Regions from separate parts of the Homo sapiens genome. Here region 1 is linked to region 2. The links come from fine-mapping of genetic effects on gene expression. A gene starts in region 2. The other region holds a variant in brackets. All regions are shown on one strand. Distances are from middle to middle.

Evidence for each region. PIP is the estimated chance that this variant, and not a neighbour inherited with it, causes the effect. A credible set is the group of variants that fine-mapping cannot tell apart.
Region 1: its variant is the best candidate, but not a certain one, in a credible set for the expression of LNX1 in aorta (GTEx, PIP 0.52).

The regions. Positions count from the first base shown.
Region 1 is chr4:53,545,915-53,551,295 of GRCh38, reverse strand. The region is part of intron 2 of LNX1 (ligand of numb-protein X 1); the gene reads left to right. Among named protein-coding and RNA genes, the nearest start is that of LNX1, 43 kb to the left of the region's middle. The variant G/T (reference allele first, on the strand shown) is at 2,767.
Region 2 is chr4:53,589,169-53,594,549 of GRCh38, reverse strand. It overlaps LNX1 (ligand of numb-protein X 1), which reads left to right and starts at 3,064. Exons shown (of 11, transcript NM_001126328.3): 1 at 3,064-3,162. LNX1-AS2 (LNX1 antisense RNA 2) reads right to left here and starts at 1,594. Exons shown (of 2, transcript NR_046827.1): 1 at 1,478-1,594. RefSeq lists an enhancer at 972-1,884.

The DNA of each region.
Region 1 (5,381 bases), 43 kb after region 2:
GACATTCCTCATTGTGGGGAGGGTGGCCTTCCCTGCCTCATGTCTGTCTAACTACCTACTGTAACAGAAGGATGAGGCCTCGGGGAGAAACTGCCAAAAGCGGTAAGAGTTATGGGCAGCCTTATGTATGCCCTTCCTGCAAAATGTGGTAGGCCCCAGGAGTCAGAGCCACAGAACACACCAAGCTCTTAGAACCAAGGATTCCAACCACCAACCGCCTCCTAGGTTAACTGACTCTAACCTAACCTGCGACATACACCTCTGACAAACTGCACAGACTTCATGCAACAAGAACATTCATTTTGGGGCTCACAGGCCCAAAGAGAGCTTTAAATCAAACCCAGCTGGGCGTTCCAGGCTTTCAAGTGGGGAGGTTGCTTGCCTCCATTTTCTGTATCTATTTCCATCTATCCATTACGCCCTGGTCTGGCTTTTCAGTATCCCCTTCTCTAGGTGAAGGCTGTGTGGCAAGACCACCCTTAGTAGCTCCTTTTCCTGCCTACTAACTTCAGTCAGACCTGGGCCAGGTATTGGGCCATGAACTCCAGGACCTGGGGAAGTGCCTTTTTAAAAAAGCTTTATACTAATGGAGATCCACACAGGAAGGTCCAGATGATTATGGTTGGATTTTTTCTGGGGTGAATGAGTCGGGAGTGAGTGGAATACAGTGGATTGCCTTAGCATCCATTTCCTCCCCACTTCATTTTCACTGTGTTAGCCATTCCCAACACTTTCAAAGTTCAAACCAACAGGGTGAGCTTTATGGATTTGCCAGCAAATGTTTTCCAAATTGAGTCTCCAAGAATTTGTTTCTTTCTTATCAAAATTGAAAAGGGGAAAAAAAAGTGTTGCTGATCCCTGGATTTGTCTTGTCCTGTGTTTTGAGCATCTGAAGTAGAATTTGGACGAGGACCTGGAAGGAAGGAGGTAGAGTTTACAGAGGAAATGGGGTATGTTGGAGAAATCATATTCCAACAGGAACAAGATCCAGTCTTGGGGCAAAGCCAGGGCCCATTTGGGCTCAATGACTCTCGAAGCATTTCAGTTCAGCACATGTTTAACAGGGCATTTTTCCTTGAATTTTTAAACTTGTGTATTTTGAAGGAAATTGAAGCCGCATGGCCCTCATTCATTTACATTGAACTCACCAAAATCTTGTTTTGTAATGATTCTTTGATGTCCAAAGAGCATTGTGATCCTGTTTCATGATTTTATTTTTTCCCCCCTTTGAGAATTAGCAAATTCTTTTTTGCCAGCAGTAAAGCCACTCCAGTTCCAAGCTGTTCACTCCCTGGTCCAAAGTGTTCTCCTCCTAGGGAGGCCACCCTAAACAAAACCCAGCAGTTTCAAGATGCCACTCTGATGCTTGGCAAATTGTGCTTGTCTTTCTAGTTCCATGACTATGTCAGGCGGATAAGAGGCAAAGCTGGGATGTCCGTAAGAATCTCACTGACCGCTTCATGTTGGTTGACTTATTTTCTTCATTTTAACTTATAATGGAAAACTACAAACAATATAAAAGGAGAGAAAAGATTATAATAAAACTCCATGTGGCCTATACCCATCTTCAGCAATTGTGAATTCAAGGCCATCTTATCGATATCTCCTTTAACTGTTTTTGAAGCACATCTCAGATGATAATGTCATTTCATCTGCAAGAATTTCAGCACCTATCTCTAAAGATAGATTCTTAAGAAATGTGAGCACAATACTAATATCACACCAAAAACAACCATAATTCTTTAATAACAAATATCTAGTTTGTGTGAATCATGAGCTAAATACAATCTACACGTTGCAATTAGTTGCCACATCTCTTAAGTTTCTTTCAACCTCCTCCTCCTCTTCTCCGTTCTTCATTCTCCGCCGATACAAAGGAGCTCTTGAAGTAAATTCTGAGGAATATAGCTTTGGCAAATTCCAAATACTGGGCTAGTAACTGAAAAAGAGAAAAATAGAACAATGGTTTTAATTTACTGTCCAAGTTGAAAGAAATGTAAGAAAGCAAAGGTCCAAAACATTGAGCATTGAAGTCTATGAATGTAACTACAATTTTACCCAAGATGAGTGTCTTTTATGACCTTGTTGCCCAGAAGCTTTAAGGGGAGAACTTATTTTTTTTACTTTTATTTTAGATTTGGGGGGTACATGTCAAGGTTTGTTACATAGGTAAATACATGTCATGGGGGTTTGCACATATTATTTCATCACATAGGTATTAAACCCAGTACCCAATAGTTATCCTTTCTGTTCCTCTCCCTCCTCCTACCCTCCACCTTCAAGTAGACCCCAGTGTCGGTCATTTCCTTCTGTGTGTTCAGAAGTTCTTACCATTCAGCTCCCACTTAGATATGCAGCATTTGGTTTTCTGTTCCTGCATTAGTTTGCTAAGGATAGTAGCCTCCAGCTCCGTCCATGTTCCTGTGAAAGACATGATCTTGTTCTTTTTTATGGCTGCATAGTATTCCATGGTATATCTATACCACATTTTCATTACCCAGACTGTCATTGATGGGCATTTAGTTTGATTCCATATCTTTGCTATTGTGAATACTGCTGCAAAGAACATTTGCGTGCATATGTCTTTATAGTAGAATGAATTATATTCCTCTGGGTTTATACCCAGTAATGGGATTGCTGGGTGGGATGGTAGTTCTTCTTTTAGCTCTTTGAGGAATTGCCATACTGCTTTCCAGAATGGTTGATTTAATTTACACTCCTGCCAACAGTGTATAAGTATTCTAATGGGAGAACTTTAAGAGACTG[G/T]AGAAATATCTCCACAGGGCAATAATCTTGCAACTTCTTGATCACAGACCTATATCAATCAATAAATTTCTCCATTGCTTGTCTTATGTATAGTTATCTATATAAAATTATATACATATACTACTACATTAATACATCCATGATAAAACAGGCACAAAAACATTGTTAAAGAATAGAAAAAATATACCTAAGAGTTCTATGACAATCTGCCCACTTTCAGGGCTCATTGGTAAAACAACTTCTTCAAAGTAAATGGAGGAAAATTGCTCACTGCCAGTCTGTGGAGTTGGTCTTGGAAGGAATGGGGCAGGAAATGGTCTACTTCTGCAGGCCAAATAAAACTTGGCAGGCCAAGGAAGCAGACATCCTTTTCTCATAGTCATATTTCCCCCGACTTTTTTTTTTTTTCAACCATCACTCCTTCTGTGTGCTCATGTGGCCCCACGCCCTTCCAGCTTTCTCTGAGGCCCACCACCCCCAACCACACCTGCTTTCATTACCACCAAGATTGGAACTGGAGGATCCAGGTTTATGAAACTTGAAATGTTCAGAATTTGAGTCCTCTTTTTAAAAAGGAAGGTAAAATTGTGAATTCACAACTGGTAGGTCCCTGTCAGGTTCTTGGAAAGGCACATGCATGCCAGGACCCCCGAACCATATTCATCAGCCTTACAGTCATCATCCCCCTCCATGGGAGCTCTGAGGTACCAAATTCACCTTCCTTTCTTTCTGACTCCTTCTTCTTATTCTCTCATATTTTCCTGTAAAGCCATCTCTGGGAATTCTGGTGCCCTTCTAAGCCCACTTCTCCCATGTTTAACTCTTGCATACCCAGAGCTGGAGCTGTCTTCCTGGTTGCCCCATGAGCCAAGAATGTACCTGTGAGCCCTTCCCGACTTTCTTCCTTTGTTAGCAGCTCTATCCAGAACAGTAGGGGAGGGAGAGGTCAGGGACCCCAGAAACAAGTCCACTTGTCATCCCAAGGACTGTAATCCAGTAGCTCTCTGCTGAAGGTGAGATGACCTAGTGATTCAAGGCACATGCTCTGCAGTCAGACTGACCCCAGTTCCTATATAGTCTCCTCTAGCTGGGCAAACTTGGGCAGGTTACTTACCTTCTCTGAGCTTTTCTCACCTATAAATGGGAATAACACTTACCTCACAGGCTGTTGTGAGATTATGTAAAGCATTTAATATAGTGCCTGGTACATAGGAAACCCTTAACTTGTGGATTTTATCATGAGTAATGGAGGGAGTTAGAATATATTTCATCAATTCTAAGACATACTTCTTAATGTCTCCTGTAAATAGATTCCATCTTAGAATTGATAACGCCATGCAAAGATAATTTGCAGTGTCTATCTTTCTTGGTTATCTGTAAAAATAATGGTGCGCCTCACAATAGACATAGTCTTCGATTTGATATAATTTGGTAACAACTAACTTTATCCACAGTAAGCACAGGTGGACTGAGATCAAGAAACTGGAGTTGCTGTAACCATACAGTCTCTTCCTCCCTCTCACTGAAGAGGCAGGGAAATGGCTGACTTGAGCTGAGAAAGGGGTAACTAGCTTAGGGGAAATTCCATGGAGAGAGGCCTGAGCTACTTGTCAGTGGCTGAGGCCTCGCCTTCCACACAGCTCTGCCTCCACAAGTGGCTCGGTCTTTACCACATCTGCCAGTCTCTTGACTCTGCCCCCGACTCCCTCCCCAGCCTTCATTCCTCAGCTATTTAGCTCCTTGCTGCCCTCACACTGCAGCTCCTCTTTCCTATTTTCCTCCTTCCCCAGTTTGAAGAGGAAGACTGAATCCAGCTTGTTGCTTGGCTGGTGGTGTCTGTGGCCCAGAACCATAAATTTTTGAGAGCCGAAGGAGAGCTTGGAGATGATTTAGTCTAATCCCCCTATTTTATAGATGAAGAAACTAAGGCCTAATAATTTACCCAAATGACTCAGCCCTGCCAGTAACAAGCTATGTGACCTTGAACAAGTTATGACATTTTTTTGGAAATAAGAGTAAAGCATTCATCGTTTTATGATATGTGTCCTGAGGAAGCAATAAAATTGGAGCTAGTGGTTAAAATTTTAAACTACCAGCTCTAGGCAAAGCAATGACATAGAGGTGACACAGTGTGGCAAGTGACCCTGCACAGCACCCATCATGAATGCAGCATCCTCTGATGGAGTCTGACCACCTGGGCCTGCTCAGAATGGTAACATGGGATTTCCTCGACCAATTTTGAACACGTGCAGCCTGGGTCCATTTGACAGCAATAAGGCTTTATGTCTGAATATGCTCTTCCAGGGATTTTTATCTAATTCTAAGAGTTTCATATACAAAGGATGGCAGCAGAGAGGCAGGGCAGAGTTCAGTCATGAAACATTAACAAGCTTTAGCTTGTATTGATTAAAAATGTGGCCTCTGGCCCAGTGCAGTGGCTCATGCCTGTAATCTCAGTACTTTGGGAGGCTGAGGTGGGTGGATCACTTGAGGTCAGGAGTTTGAGACCAGCCTGGCCAACATGGTGAAACCCTGTCTTTACTAAAAATACAAAAATTATCTGGGCATGGTGAGGTGCACTGTACTACCAGCTACTCAGGAGGTTGAGGCGGGAG
Region 2 (5,381 bases):
AGGGGGGAATGGAGCACTATATGTCCAGGATTTGCCAAGCCTAGTCTAAACCATTCTTCCTGGTAGTGGTTTATAATGAAACTTAATTTTTCATTGTCTCATATTTTCCAAATGTATGCAGTTCCATGTTCTTATGGCCACTCGGATTAAATTTTCAGATTTTAAAGTGATAGGCCGCAGAAGTTACAGAGAAAAATGACCATAAAAGATGTCATAGAGAGTTACAACTGGTCATTCTTGAGGGGTCCCTCAAGCTGGCCTTCCATCTTGGGGTTGATTTGATAAGCTCTCAAAAGATGATTTCAAGTGTGCACCCAGGGGCGATGGATTTCCTGGTATGATTTCTCATAAATATATGCATGAATTTATGAATATATACATATTTATATATACATATATATATATATATTATACACACACTTTCAGCATATAGACCAGATTACTAATTAATTTCCAAATGGAGACATCCTTTATCAGAAACTACCCTCCCCAGGGCTACTTCTACAGGTTTCTACTTCTCCTTCTGAATAATGGGTAAGAAGCTGAATGTGTCCAGGAAGTGTCCCAGTGAGCATGAAATCAGAACCTTCCCTCTTTTCTTTCCAGTGGTTAAAAAGTGGGCCTTGATTAAAAACTGCTCTGCCGCTTGCCGATGAGCTTGTCCTTAGGCAGTTTCTCAGATTCACTATGTCTTGGTTTTCCCAGCTGTAGAATGCAAATAGCAATGATACCTGACACAGGGTTCTTGTATAAAGTGCTCAGAACAATAAGTAGCACCTGTTAAACACAATGTTCATTTTTATGATTACATTTTTTTCTAGTAGTTTAGAAATATAATTTCCATGATAATGTAACAGCCCTAATGGCCCAAAAAAAAAGCCCATATTATTTTTTTTAACCCCTGCATATTATTCGAAATCCAGGAGTACCAAGAAAGATCTCACCTGAGAAGGCTAATTGTGTAGTTTTTTCTCTTCCTTTATACACTATACCTGGGAGTTAGCTCCACTCCTGGATTAACTCTTATTTCTCTATTTTCTTTCTGTTTTACAACAATTCATCACACCACATATGTAGATGACTGTGTGTATGTGAACATGGCAAGTGAAACCTCACGATCTCCAGGCTGTTCGGTGAAGCTTTATGCGAATTCATTTCACCTACACCCTTCCCCTGCCCACCCAAGGCCTTGAACCGAAGCCTGTGATCCCCTCCCAAGTTGGATCCTGCCCTTCGCCAAAGGCAAGACCGCTGAAGGCGTGGCCTTCTAGATGATTCATCAGGTTGGCGGGCTCTCCCTCCCCTCCCCCTTGCCCAGGGGACACCCTGTCCGCGTGAAGAGGGGGGCCTTTGTGTGAGTGATGTTTCTCAATTATCAAACTAGTGGCGTGAAACCTTTTCCTGAAACACCTGAGTGTAAAAGGTTTTGTTACCTCCCTTTTTTTCTTTTAAATAATAAAGGAATAGCCACACCTACCTTAGTTTCTATTGGATAAAAAGGTGAATAGTTTTGTTGTGGTGGTTGTTGTTGTTTTAAGCCTTCAACTCTCAAAAGGCACAGAGTTCCCAGGTGCAAAGAGGTAGCTTAGACCTGTCTGGGGCGGATCGGGGACAGGAGCCAGCTCCCCTGAGGTCGAGCACCAGAGCCGGCCCCCAGACCCCGCCCTCGACTACAATTTCTCTTCCTTCTCCTCCCCCTTGCTTTGCGAGCTATTGACTGACTGCAGCCAGCTGAGGCCCAGGCTGTGGGAATCCGGACTTCCTTTTCTTCCCTCTCCCATTTTTCCTTCTTCCTCCACCCTCCCCCAAACCAAACCCCAAAACCTCTAGGTAGTCCAATATTAAAACCGGTGGAACAAAAGCATTCCCAAAATCAGGAGGAGGGAAAGAAGAAGACGAGGGAGGCAAAAGTAGGAGGAAAATAGGAATGTCAACATTTATTTTCCTGAAGGGGAAAAAAAATTCTCTCTGGGCAGGCAGGCCATCTTCCGGGACGGGGAATCCACAGTTTCCTCAGGTAATGAGTTCCAGGGATGCTGGATGCAGGTGGTAAAAATACGCAGCGTTTCAATGGGATGATGGGAGATGTTTACAGCCCTCCTGGGAAGATGCCAGAGAGTTTAACAGTCCTGGGATACCTCCCAGCTGCCTGCTCTGGTGCTGGATGAGTTTACGCCTCCTTTCCTGCTGGAAAAGGTGAAGCAACCAGTGACTTGTCCAGGGTCACACACCACGCTTGGGACAGAAATAACTCTGACGTCTCTTTCCTGGCTATATCAGCAGACAACATCGCCTAATGACAGTACTACCATTCCAATCTGAATCATTTAAATTGCTCCTAATTGCAGGCCTGCAGTGCACTGTAACTGCCGTATGACTCTAACTGCCAAGCCAGCCGAGATAGGAATGACTGAAGTTTTGCAAATTCCTGAATATGGAATTAAAAATGCTGGGCGGGGGAGGGGGTAGCGCAAAAGTGTTTGAAAACCACTTTGAAACTGCTGACAGGTATCCTATTTCAAATTGTTTAAAAGATGAATTGGAAATGTCAACTTAAATTTGTCATTTTATTGGAATTAGAGAAACACTTGGTGTTCAAATGGATGCGGTTCGAAAAGGCACCTCAGATATTTCTAAGAAGTTCGGCTTCACACTCTTCCTTTTTGTGTCTGCTAAATTACTGTCTCATTTTGGTGTTTAAACTTCCCTTTTAACTCCTTTGTGGGCAGATATGGGGAAAGGGGAGGGCCTGGGAAACAACCAGGCATTTGACTTCAGATCTGAACACGGGGCTGGACACGTGCTGTGCTCAGGAAAGAAAGTAAATTCCACCTGGCAAATTGCTCTAACTGATTTATTTGTCCACAAAGAGACGCCACCTACCTGCTTGCAGGTATTCAGGTAAATGACAGGTGGGCGGGGCCTCCTGACTCTTTCAATCCCTAAGGTCTCAGCAATGCTTTATCTGTCGGGGCTTCCGTGATGTCACCCATTTCCTGGTCTGGAGCGACCAATGCCGTCCTCCTTCCTCCAGGCACCTGTTCACCGAAGTTGAGGCTGGTCACAACTCCGGCGGCCCAAGGAGCTGCTCGGTTCACCCACAAGGAATGAGAGCTGCCTGCCTGCTGCTGCTTGGAGAGCCCCAGACAGTCGCTTGAAGAGGTGAGTTGAAACCCTCCATTTTTCTCTCTTGGCATTTAGACCACTGGCCCCTGAGGGATCTGAACACGGAATTTGAATGAAAAAATACAAGCTGAACGGCTTGTCGCTAGTGTTTGCCCCAGAGGGAGAAGCTTTTTTGAGACAGAAGAGTAGAGAGATGACTTTGACATTCTAGTTGCACAATAAACTTCTCCCAGGCCAGATATTTAATCCTTTTTGTTTCTCTGATCATTAATCCAGCCTGTGCTTGTCCTCGTACTTGATCTGATTAAAACAACAACAACAACCTAAAGAGAAGTAGAGTGAAGGCTTTTGTTTTGAAACTTAGCGCGAAGGTGCAGATCTGTTCAGCCCGTTTAACGGGGGCTAGGAGGCCAGTGCAGACTGGATTCAGAGTTCTTATTTTTCCTTTTCTTCCTCCCTGTATTTTGATCTAAACCTGTGAAGTGTCCCTAGTTTTTTTTTCTTTCCCCCTGAAAACCTGTTCCTCAGGGCAAATTCTGTTGCCCTATTCAGAAGCTGTGCGTTCCAGTTTTCCTCTCTTCTCTGAAAAAGTCTACCATTTTCTTTGCTCTTTGTTGAACACTCTTTTAAATACGACTTTGCAGTGTGCATTTAGAATTTGTTTACATTTAGACCTGGACTGGCTGCCTGCTGACCTTTGGTTACAGTAAGAATTAATTCCCTCATTGCTGCAAGAATGTGACTTCAGGTCTGATTTTTAATTTTTTGGACCTCTTTGGCTTTTTCTGTCTCTTTTTCTTTTAATAGCAAATATACCGAGGAAGTTGTTCTGCCAGGACCTGGCTTTTAAAGTAATTTTACCTCTAGGATCCATTTTTGTTTTCTTAATCCTGATCACACAGCCTGTATCTTGACAGCCCAATAGTCAAACTCTTTAGCCAATATTGTTGTCAGAGAAAGGAAACCATTTTTAAGCCCAGCTGCCTGCTGGGATGAGCTGGAAAAACTGGAAAAAGAAATAAATCTGCGAGACACTTCATTCTAGATTCCAACATCAGCTGTTTTTCTGAGATTTAAGTTAGCAGATGTTTGCAAGGGAATAATCTGTTAGGAATTATGCTCCTGTTCATCCACCCAGAAATACAAAATGCATGTAAATTCTCCCAAGGTATGAATTGAAACAAGCTGAGATCATTTTTGCCTTAGACAGACAGTCGTTCCTCACCACTAAGAATCTGCCCAGTTCTTGTTGCTAATTTCTGTCTTACTGTTTGGAGGTCCCTATTGTTCTTCCTTAACTGACCTTTGTTTATTATTTTCCCCAAGCTTGTGAGTTTAAGGGGGGGGGTTTGGCCACCACTTGTCTCTTACTAAGGTTCTCACTTGATTCAAAGCTTGGATCTTCTGATAAAAGTGCATCTAAACCTCTCCTCAAGATTACATTGCCTCTGGTTTACCATGGTTGATTAGTGCTTTTCACAGTAGTTAATTTATGATTAAATAAATAATTTCATCACTGTATGTCAGCATGTCTGAGTACTAAAGGAACAAAGCTGTAGACACTGTACCCCCAGGTAGAAGAAAGAAAAGAAGTGACAAAGACTGGAATTCAGAGTCAGATTGACTAGAATGCAGTTGGTCTGTTGGGTAATTTACACACAAGTCCTGTCCAGAGTTCCTGTGGTAACTCCACCCATTGGTTCAAGTGGACATAGGCCTGATGGAAAAATGTGCAATCTCCTTCATTTATATCCTTGAGCAAGTTACTTCTCTGACTTTCAGTTTCTTCATCGGTAAGATGGGAGATAATAATCCCCATGATCTAATGTGGTTGTGAGAAGTAAATGAGGTAGCTAATATATGTTAGCATCCAGCGACCAATGCCTGGTGTTAACTGGTGCTAAACTGAGGCTAGGTTCTTCCTTTGGAAGGAATTTTCCTAGGTTGCTTGGAGGAGAGAGTCTGACTCTATCAAGATAAAGATCATATGTGGTTGCAGTTGTAGGAACCTTGATAGTTCTTGTTATTGTAATTAATTGTAGGTAATTAACTGCAATGTTAACAGTTTGGAAAAAGAAAACAGGCAGGAGAATTCTTAAACAATGTCATCAAACAAGGTGGGCAGATTTGTCTCCGCTAGCCTCACAGGCAAAGCTTTTAGGAGTTGCTGGCTGGCTGTGATTTCTTCCTTTTCCCACTCTAAGGCTCTCATCCTGCAACAGACCCACAAAATGTGATTCTCCATGGGCCTTTCG